2 separate regions of the Homo sapiens genome follow, and region 2 is linked to region 1. Evidence: fine-mapped expression QTL. A gene starts in region 1. The other region holds a variant in brackets. All regions are shown on one strand. Distances are from middle to middle.

Region 1 (5,383 bases):
AGCTAGGCGCAGTCGTGCCCACCTGTAGTCCCGGCTACTACGGAGCCTGGGGTGGGAGGATCACTTGAACCCAAAGAATTTGTTTTTGTGTGTCTTTATTTCCTAAATTCTGTGAGAAGAATAGATTTTTATTTCAAACATTATCTGATATTGGCTTCCAATTTCCCAAGTAGTTTCTCTATTGTTACTGCTGAGCCTGTGAATTTACAATGTTCCACACCACTCCGAAGTTACTAGACAATAAATTAATCGATGAACGCTTTAAAAAGTTGGACTGCTTTAATAAAAAAAAAAAAAACTGGGTCACATGTTCCAACAGAATTCCCTCTTTTAGAGAACTAATTTTACAAAATAATTCAGAGTGGAAGACAAGACACGATGGAATGCTATTTTTGATAATGAGTAGCAGAAAAAAGACCAGAGAATAACACACCCACTGCTACTTTGTTTATACGGTTGTAACTTGCACATGCAAGTACTCTACATAAAGTATTGCACAAGAAGAAACTGTCAAAAATGAATGCTTATGAAAACATTCTTCACTAAGGCCTCTAACAAGGAATGTGCTATCTCTGATTTCCTCGGCAAGTATTGACAGATTAAGCAGAGTGATAATGCTCAAGATGAAAAGACGTCTTATACTAGTTTTTATCAATAGTAAAAGCTGTTGGTACTAATTATAATGGCTGTAAATTCAGTAGCAGAATCAACTTTACAGACGATATCTCCTAGGCAGCACAGCATTTTATAAAACCAACTTTACTTCCATCAAAACCCTTTTTCCCCCCCAATCCGACAGACCCTGGCAACCTGTCTTGCTGTGTCTTTTTTCCCCTACCCTTCCAAAAGAACCCCAGCCAGTGAATCGAAGTAATATTTTCCGCAGTTCAAAGGTAAGGGCAAACTCAGCTCTACTAAGAACTCTTGCTCCTCACCAGCACACACCCTAACCCCCACCCCCTTTTTTTTCTTTTCAAATCTTGGCCTAGGAAAGATTAATGCTCCCATATCATTGCAAATCCACAAAAATGCGATTTTAGGTGGCGAGGAACTAAACTAGGATGGCAGGAAAGACCGGCAGCAATAAATCATTTCGCCCTAGAAACCAGCCTCTCCAGAACGCAGGAAACCAGGCTGTGCCCAAAGAACCTGCCGCCCGGAAGCAACAACTTCCATCAAACGGCAAATAAAAGTTGCAAAGAAGAGCTCAGCGCCCAGGCACCCTGCCCGGTGCCGAGGCTGAGAGCAGCAGGCAATCTACAGGCCGAGTCAGCTCGCGGGCGGTGGCCGCGGTGTCCGCAGGGCTGGCTCCGGCTCCGGAAGACTCCGGGTCCCGGGGTACGCCAACGGCCCGGGGCTGCGCGGGCACAGCGCCCGCACCCCTCCCCAGGACCGCGAGCAGTGGGCGGAGAGACCAGAGCAAGGGAAAAGGCGGACAATGCCCGGCTGGGCTGGCGCGCTCCGCCGGTCCCCGCCAGCCCTGCCCGCCGGGGCCCGCCAGCCGCCGCGCTAAGTTTGCTCCTCAGCCCTCCCTTCCCAGCCGAGGCGGCGGAGCCGTGGTCGCCGGTCTTCCTCCACCTCTGCCACCGCCTTCCTTCCCGCGGGGCGGCTCCCGCGAGTCGGTGGCGAGGCGGCGCGCGACCAGAGCAGGACGCGCGAGAAGGCGGCGCGCGAGGGGTACCCGGGCGCGCGCGAGAAGAGCCAGGCACTGGAGGGGAAGGGGACGTGCGGGAGAGACGGGCGCGCGGCGCTGCCGGCGGAACCGCCGGAGCTCGGGCGGGCTTTCGGTTGAGGCTGGGGTTGCGCCGCGGTTTGGTGTCCGTTACGAGCGCCGGCCCGGGCCGCGCCGCGCCGCTTGCCAGCCATCCTGGACCGCCTTCCCTCGGCGCCCACCAGGAAGGACAGCTGGCGAGGGCCGACGACCTCGTCTCCCGCCCAGGCTGGGCTGCCGGCGGCGGGCATCCCGGCGCCTGCCCCGGGGCTGGAAGAGAAAGTAAAATGAAGCGCCTTTCCCCAGTCAACACCTACCCGTTCCCAGTCCTAGTACAGCTGCCTCGCTCCTCCAGCGCCGCCGGTCCCCGCCCTCGGGCCCCTGGCTCCGTTCTCTTGACAATGGCGCGTCCCCTTTAAGGAATAATCCGATCGGAACCGATCTGTGGTTAAACCTCCCTCCGACTCTGATTTTAACCGGATTTCTCTCTCGCTCTCTCCCAGAGCCCGACGGGCGCCCGGCTGTGCTGCGAGGTCTTCCCACCCCTTCCCTACCCCGCCCGCCCCCTGGCCTTCCTGATTGGCGAGAAACACTACAACAGGAACAGCAGTCCTCGCCCTCCACTGGCCTGGCCAGCCGCCGCTCAAAGTTGCTCCTACCTTCTCCCCGCCCCTTTTCCCGGGTTGGTCTTCCCTCTAATCATTCTCTGCCCTCGCCTCTAACGTTGCTTTGGAGCCCTGGCAGTCAAGGCTCACCCTCCCGCCTCCGGAAAGCGAACTTTATTTTTATTGGTGAAAGGACATCTTCCTGTACACTTGATTGGGCAAGGAAAGAGCTAGTCTGCACGCTCCCTACCATTATTACTCTCTCTTTACGGGCTTGAGAAACACAGCCGCAAAGTCCTCTCCGCTTTGCCTTCTAGGAGCGACTTTACCTTTAAATGTTGTTAGGGGTCGAGGACAAACTCATATCCTATATTGAGGAAAGCTGGAAAGGGACAAGAGAAAAATTCAAAATTTTCTCCCGATCAGTAATGTATCCAGAGCTGGCGCCCGGATCCTGCGGAACCTTATCCAATGATCCAGAGAATGGAATGGTTAGAATTGAGTTAGAATACCTGAAAGTCCAGTGCTAATTCCTCCTGAGATTTACTCAACAAGTTTCATCCACTGTCCGCCCTACTCATACCATTGATTGCACTGGCATTTTGCCACCCGGAAGAGCTTTAATCAAGTTATCTGCAAACCTGGAGGTTTCCTTGCTTGTCTCGCAATTGTTCATTTAGAAAATCATTTCCATTACAAGTTCCGTTTAAGTCACGTCCTCTGTGACGTTCCCGCGTTTCCACGAGACCTGTTACTTTTTTGAAAAAATTAAGTAGATGGTACCCTTATGCCATCCTCAAAGTGTAGGACTTCGTTCCCCCTTGCTAGAACTGTAGGAAAAACACCCCAGGTCACTTGAACAACTGAGATGCCTCTCAGGAGAAAACGAGTCTGTCTAAGGGAAAGAGGGAATCTGATACCAGAAGCTTGACCATGGAGCAGAACCTCACGCATTGAAAAGAGAAGAAATTATGGGGAAGCCTAGTGCGGGGTCTGCTTTAGAGTTTCCCCAGTTTCCCACTGGAGCTGTAAGAACTAAAAGGTTTATTTCCACTAAAATTGAGTACAGGTACAGCTTCGGTACCCATCTAAGAATGTTAGGGGAAAATGGTTATGTGTTCTCTCCCTCTTTGCCGATGAACCTTGAAGACTGTGTACCCCGGGGGCTTTAGTACATTTGCAGTGATACCCCAGTATAATCTAATGGTGCCAAGGAAGTGTCAGTGCTCAGCAGTACCCTAGAAAAGGGGCTTGATGATGACAGAGAAGGGTAAGTAAACATCAGTAGTTGGTAGTTCATAGGACTTTTCCCCAAATACAGGTGAAAAATTTCATGAGGATTCCCGAAAATATGAAAGAGCAGGAAACAAAAGGGAACGTTGCAGGAAGGTGGTTTAGGTATCACTAGTGGGGGCAAGAGACGATGAACTATCTGGGTTGCATTTATATGGCCTTCACAGATACACACATCCTCCCTATTAAGTCCCTATAACTAAATCCCTATGCTTAGCCTATTCTGATTTTACTGTATAATAAAACTGCAGCCAAGCTAAACTAATACTTCTGGTTTACTCACTTACCACTCTCAAACTCTGAGACTGCTTCTGGGTTCTAATATTCTACATTAGAATATAAGAAGAAGAAGATACTATGTACTGATATCTAGTATGATCTTCTGGAGATAAAGATATCCAGTGTTTCAGGCATGTACACACCTGCAGCTTTTGTTCAAGGTCTAAGTGATGTTTTCAGGTTCTTTCTAAAACACCTGCCCTATGATATCCAGCTTGTTACTGCCCTCTTTTGCTGCACTAGCAGACTGGGCATATAAACTAGAGAAGGCAGTCTACAGTAACCTCTAGATTCTCTTACTTGCATTGAACCAACTATGCTGAGATTATCACCTTTCAAGTATAATTTGTGTTATTCTTTTCTCTAAATATTTCATATTTGCCCACAATAGGATCATTTATCACTTTTTAGCCCACACATGCAACTTCCTGGTACTAATACTCCTACTGGCATTTCACAGCAAAGAAGAATTTTAAAAATCTACAAACCTGGAGCTTACAACGTAGAGGTTATTCTTAAGAATGTTCAGTGTTGATGAACACAGCCCCAGTTCTAACCCTGGAGAATTTTACAAGTTGTACTTTCTCATTCAGAGAGACTTTATCTCTCTACCTTAGTTTCTCATTCTAAGCCCAATCCCCACTCTTTAAAAAAAGAATATTTCTCGGCTGGGTGCAGTGGCTCACGCCTGTAATCCCAGCACTTTGGGAGGCCAAGGCAGGTGGATGACTTGAGGCCAGGAGTTCAAGACCAGCCTGGGCAACATGGCGAAACCCCATCTCTGCAAAAAATACAAAAATTAGCTGGTGGGAATGGTCACAGGCCTGTGATCCCAGCTACTGGGGAGGCTGAGGCAGGAGAATCACTTGAACCCGAAAGGCGAAGGTTGCAGTGAGCCAAGATTGCACCACTGTACTCCAGCCTGGGCGACAGAGTCTCACTCTGTCACACACACACACACACACACACACACACACACACACACCCTTCTCCAATGTGCTAATGTAAATAAAGCTTTTTAAATTATTGTATATAGATGTTTGTTAAAGTCTTTTAAATGGTGAAATACCTCCAGGCACCATGGCTCACACCGTGCCAGTAATCTCAGCACTTTGTGAGGCCGAGGCAGGCAGATCACCTCAGGTCAGGAGTTCAAGACCAGCCTGGCCAACATGGTGAAACCTCGTCTTTACTAAAAATACAAAAATTAGCCGGGCGTGGTGGCGCATGCCTGTAATTCCAGCTACTCGGGAGGCTGAGGCAGGAGAATGGCTTGAACTCGGGAGGCGGAGGTTGCAGTGAGCTGAGATCGCACCACTGCACTCCAGCCTGGATGACATAGCAAGACTCCGTGTCAAAAATAAAAAATACAAAAAAAGTGAAATATGTTATGATCACTATTCTCCCTGTTTATATGCAAATGTACCCCTCAAAGAGGTTCCATAGTTTAACCAGTAATTATTTTTCCTCTGAAAAATTATGTTACCATTCCTAT
Region 2 (5,383 bases), 210 kb before region 1:
TGTATTGAATGAATCAATGTATGACCTTTATTCCTTAAATAAGTGTTTTTCAAATTTTTTCCTTTATTCCTTAAATGAGTGTTTTTCAAGCTCTGGATCATGACCTACTAGTGGATAGGAAACTGATTTAGTGGACTACAACCTGTACCAGAATAAAATCTTCATTAATCTAACAAATATTCATTACCTTCTATGTGTCAGGCACATGAAATCCACTAGGTGAACAAAACAAAGCTCCCTGTCTTCTTGGCATTCAGAATTCATTTTTTTCCGTAGCCATGAAAATTTAAAAATCCAGAATAGCAATAACTTTCTATTAATAACTCTTTAAAAAATACTTCAAAACAAAATACACAACTGGGTTCAAAAATCATTATTGCTTAATAGTCATATAGTTTTTGGTAATTTTAAATACAGCAAAATTTTGCAGTCCCCAAAATAGAACCATTCAAAGATTCTTCTACGAATGCTACAATTAAAGCAACCAAAGAAGATTCAGATGTGTATCAGGTTGTTAATTTTTTGCATCAAGCCCACAAGTTTCAATTTCACTTTTCCTAACTTTAACTCTTATTTTTTGTGGAGGAAAGAAAAGAGAATAGTATTTCTTTCTTTCTTTTTTTTTCTTTTGAGGCGGAGTTTCACTCTTCTCACCCAGGCTGAAGTGCAATGGCACTATCTTGGCTCACAGCAACCTCCACCTCCTGGGTTTGAGTGATTCTCCTGCCTCAGCCTCCCGAGTAGCTGAGACTACAGGCACGCATCACCGTGCCCAGCTAATTTTTGTATTTTTGGTAGAGACGGGGTTTCGCCATGTTGGCCAGGATAGTCTGACCTCAGGTGATCCGCCCTCCTTGGCCTCCCAAAGTGCTGGGATTACAGGTGTGAGCCACTGCATCGGCCAATATTTCTTTTTTTTATTTGCTTTTTATTAAGAAAGAAAAGTAAATCAATGGTTTAAATACTCTGATTAAAAATCTATTTTGAAAGTATTTGTCAAAAGCATTCAATGCTACATATGAAAGGTGTTCGGTAAAATAAATAATTGGGAGAAATGCTAAAGGAATAATGCTGTGCAGTTATCATAGTTACTACACTTGTTGGATTAATAATACTTCTTTTTTTTCCTTTTTGTTTCAAGACAAAGTCTCGCTCTTTTCCCAGGCTGCAGTGCAGTGGCATGGTCAAGGCTCACTGTAACCTCAATGTCCTGGGCTCAGGTGATCCTTCCACCTCAGCCTTCCAGGTATCTGGGACTACTGGTGTCTGCCACTATTCCTGGCTGATTGTTTGCGTTTTTTATAGAGATGGGATTTTGCTATGTTGCCTAGGCTGGTCTCCAACCCCTGGGCTCAAGTGATCCACCCATCTCAGCCTCCCAAAATGCTGGGATTACAGGCGTGAGCCACTGCACCTAGTCCATTTTTTTTTCCTTAAGATATCTTTTCAGTGACCTTTTTGGATATGGTCACATCTATTATATTTCTCCTTCAACGGTCAGGTAACACCATTATCCTCCTAAGGAAATAGTTATTTTTCAACATTCAGCTGATGGAATTTTCCTCAAGGGGCTGGGCTTAGTGTGAAGATGCCTTTACTGCGGCAATATCTCCAGGTTTCATGGTTTTATCTGTGAATGGTGGAAAACAGTTATGAATTATATTTGTAAGATTTCATAATTTTCCCTGGCAGGATAGATAGCAAGTTCATTTGAATAAATTTGTAAGCTTTACAATGTTTAGCCTGTGAATATATTATTTTTTCAAGCTCAGAAGAAAAACATCTTTAAAATGAGGTAAGAAAAAGGAAAATCTTTTTTCCTTTGTGACAGAAAAAGCTACCACTGTCCACTTGCCAAGATAACTAGGTTCCAACAAATATCAAAATCATAGGAACATTATATCCATTTTTTGCCAGAAGCAATCCAATTCTGGTAGTAGATTTTTCAATACATTTTTAGCTACTGGTCAGTGTATCGAATGCATATTTATTTGTTAAATAATTTTCACAGTGATACATACAGGTTTTCTTGTTGCAATGGTGCTTTTCTGTTTTTATACATTTCATGAGCGAAAAGAGATTACGTTCTCTAGGATCATTCCAGAGTTTTAACAATGTGAATCCAATACTGACCTGTGACTAATGACACCAGCATCTGCCAGCAGTTCAAATATTCGTACCAGTTGTACTCGTAAAATGTCTCGACGCCTGCGCCGTTTCATATTCTATTCCAAAGATACAAACACATTAATTAAAATCCTGCTGGTGTAACTTGGAAAGAATAATGTGACTGCCTCAGAGAGAGGTTCTGGGCTCATTGAAGTTATTTTGCTTGTACAGTGTAGACTGTGGGTACTCTGGTAGCTACTGCCTCAAAGAGGTATGAGTGAACAGTTTGAAATGAATGAGTCAAATAAGGTCACATGACATCTTACATGGTGACAACCCCTGTGTGTCAGGGGAAGTAAAATACTACATTTTTAGGTTATTTGCTAATCAGACAGTTTTGGAATTGAAGCAATTAGTAAACTGTTATCATGGAATTATAAGGAATCCCTAATACCCTCCCAAAAATATGACAGAAGTATAGGGAAAACAATCCTAAAAAGGACTTAAGATTTTGCTCATGCCACAGTTTTCTACACAACAATTTTGGCACAAAAAATATAAACAAATACAAGAAAAACTTCTTTACTCATTATGATATGAATAAATATGTTTGTATTACTAGGTCCAAAGAACTAGAATAATGCCCAGAATAATAGCTGTAACATTTCAACGTGATTCTGCTTCTAGCAGAAAGTCATGTAAGAGATATCAATCACCTATATCACCTTCTACTATAGGTCATTATTTCATTTGTGATGTAATTTTCATATTACAGAGCAAATTAAAACCATATTTACTAGTTGAAATTTCACTTTCTTGTCCATGACCCAATTTTTCTGCCTTCCAGGTGCATGATAATTTACTAATGACTAATCAATTACATTTACTTTTCTCTTGGCTCTTTCTAAAGTTGACAGCA[A/T]TTCATTTGAAACAGGATGATTTCTTATCAGTCTTTGAAGATTTCTGCAACTGGCTTTTGCAGTTTGGTTGGCCTGTTTTCATTTTGTCTTCACAGAAACAGTGTGAGTCTAAAGCTCTTCAACTATAACTCACATTCAAGGCACATCACTGCATGTGTTTAATAGCATTCCTTCTGAAATTCAGAAGAATAAATACTGCTATTTTGTTTTGTTTCAATCTCACATTTCTCTAACAAGTCATCCAGCACTGTAACCAAACTGATCATTCTGAAACAAAAATCAAATCAATGACAAAATAGGAATACTATCATGACCCTACAGTGCTGAATTAAAGGAGAATGAGGAATTGCAGATGATGTTTCAAAGTCCCTAAACTGCAGGGATTATCACCATCTCCCTCTCCTGCTTAAATTCCTCAGGGCATCCCCAACATTAACAGCACTGATTCCCAAACAATGTTCTACAGCAGACTCATCTAAGATGCTTTACAAAAACAGACTTCTGGACCCTATTCCAGGGATTCTCATTCAATAGACCCAGGAGTCTAAAATTTTTAGCAAGCTCCCCAGGTAACTCTCAGATGCCACAGGCACAGGAACTACTGTTCTACTGGTTAAAGCTAAAGCTAGTAGTTTTTCATGAGATATTTCTCATCTTGCTATCCAGCCTAATATTCAATCACTTCCCCCATAATATAACTACACAGAAAAATTTGCAATTTCAAAATTCTTTGTAAAGTTTGCAAATGCTGTTCTTTGCCTAGAATACCTTTTTCCCTTGTTTGTCCACTGAGGAACGTGCTTCAAAATTCATCTGAAATATCAGCACTTCATCTATAATGCCTTCCTTACCCTGCAACCAGAGTCCCAGGCTTTCTTCTCTGTAGTTCTTAGAATCTCTTCTCTATGATTTTACTTGAGTGCGTAATAAATTGTTAGAATTAAGGTTTTCATAACCATCTGTCCCACTGGACCTATAGTTTCTGAAAGCTGCTCAGAACCTGTAGATTTGGGAATCTAGGCTCAGTCTTGTGAAACTACATCCCATGGGCCAAATCTGGCCCACTGCTACCTGTCGCTGCAAATTTTTTACTGTTTTACTGGCAAACAGCCACACTCCTTTTTTTATGTAGTTTACGAACGCTTTCATGCTACAAAGGCAGGGCTGAGTAGAGACAGTATGGCCTGTAAAGCCGAAAATATTTACCATCCGGTCCTTTGCAGAAAAAGTTTGCCAACTCCATTCTAGACCCTATTTTCTGCCCTCACTTAAGTTAAAGCAATTTTTCATCCGTTTTACATAATGGGTTTCTGCATAAGATCTTCTGCGGGGAGGGGAAGTGTCTGCATCTTAAAAAGAAGAATACACTAGATAGTCTTCGTAATTTCTAACTTTTGATATAACATGTAAATATGGCAGAAAAATGAATGTTCACTAATACAAGGCTGCAGAACACAGCTCACCTCTGGCCTTCTTTCGAGTGCTTCTTTAATTATGGGATGTAATTCCTCTATTAGTTCCCTGGAAGAAAAATGGTACATATTCTATTAATAGCTACACAGATATAATCTGACACAGGTAAATATGTAAAAACATGATGTAAACTGACAAGTGTTAATTCCAATCCTACTGTTTTAAACACAATGTCTATTTTTTTATTTGGTTTATAAAATAACACATTATATTATAGACTATTTGGAAACCAGAAAAAAAATGGTATAGGCCTCTTATTTTAATTTATAGAGGGAATACTACCAATATTTTTATTCAATCAGTTTGCAATCCACATACGTTTTACTTAGTTGAAACTGTTTTATATAAAATGGTATCCTTTTTTATTTTTTGAGATGGAGTTTCGCTCTTGTTGCCCAGGCTGGAGTGCAATGGCGTGATCTCGGCTCACTGCAACTTACGCCTCCCGGATTCAAGTGATTCTCCTGCCTCAGCCTCCTGAGTAGCTGGGATTACAGGCATGCACCACTATGCCTGGCTAATTTTTTGTATTTTTAGTAGAAACAGGGTTTCTCCATGTTGGTCAGGCTGGTCTCAAACTCCCGACCTCAGGCGATTTGCCCGCCTCAGCCTCCCAAAGTGTTGGGATTACAGGTGTGAGCCACCGCGCCTGGCCTATTTTTCTTTTCTTACACTAACATAGTTAATTTTATATGCCAATAATTAATTCATGATATTCGAACATAGGGTGGGGTACCATAATTTTCCTAGACATTTTCATTTATTAATGAATCATTTTATTTTATCTAATTTTCTCTTACTAAAAATATTGCCTCTGTGAACAACTTTGTACATTTTTCACTGTTTTCGTTTCTATCCCCTTAGGATTAATTTTACAAATT

The links. PIP is the estimated chance that this variant, and not a neighbour inherited with it, causes the effect.
Region 2: its variant is the best candidate, but not a certain one, in a credible set for the expression of FRYL in whole blood (TOPMed, PIP 0.80).

The regions. Positions count from the first base shown.
Region 1 is chr4:48,778,050-48,783,432 of GRCh38, forward strand. FRYL (FRY like transcription coactivator) reads right to left here and starts at 2,230. Exons shown (of 64, transcript NM_015030.2): 1 at 2,029-2,230. RefSeq lists silencers at 1,196-2,075, 2,166-2,275.
Region 2 is chr4:48,568,694-48,574,076 of GRCh38, forward strand. FRYL (FRY like transcription coactivator) reads right to left here. Exons shown (of 64, transcript NM_015030.2): 26 at 4,493-4,550; 27 at 2,134-2,225. Among named protein-coding and RNA genes, the nearest start is that of ZAR1, 81 kb to the left of the region's middle. The variant A/T (reference allele first, on the strand shown) is at 3,029.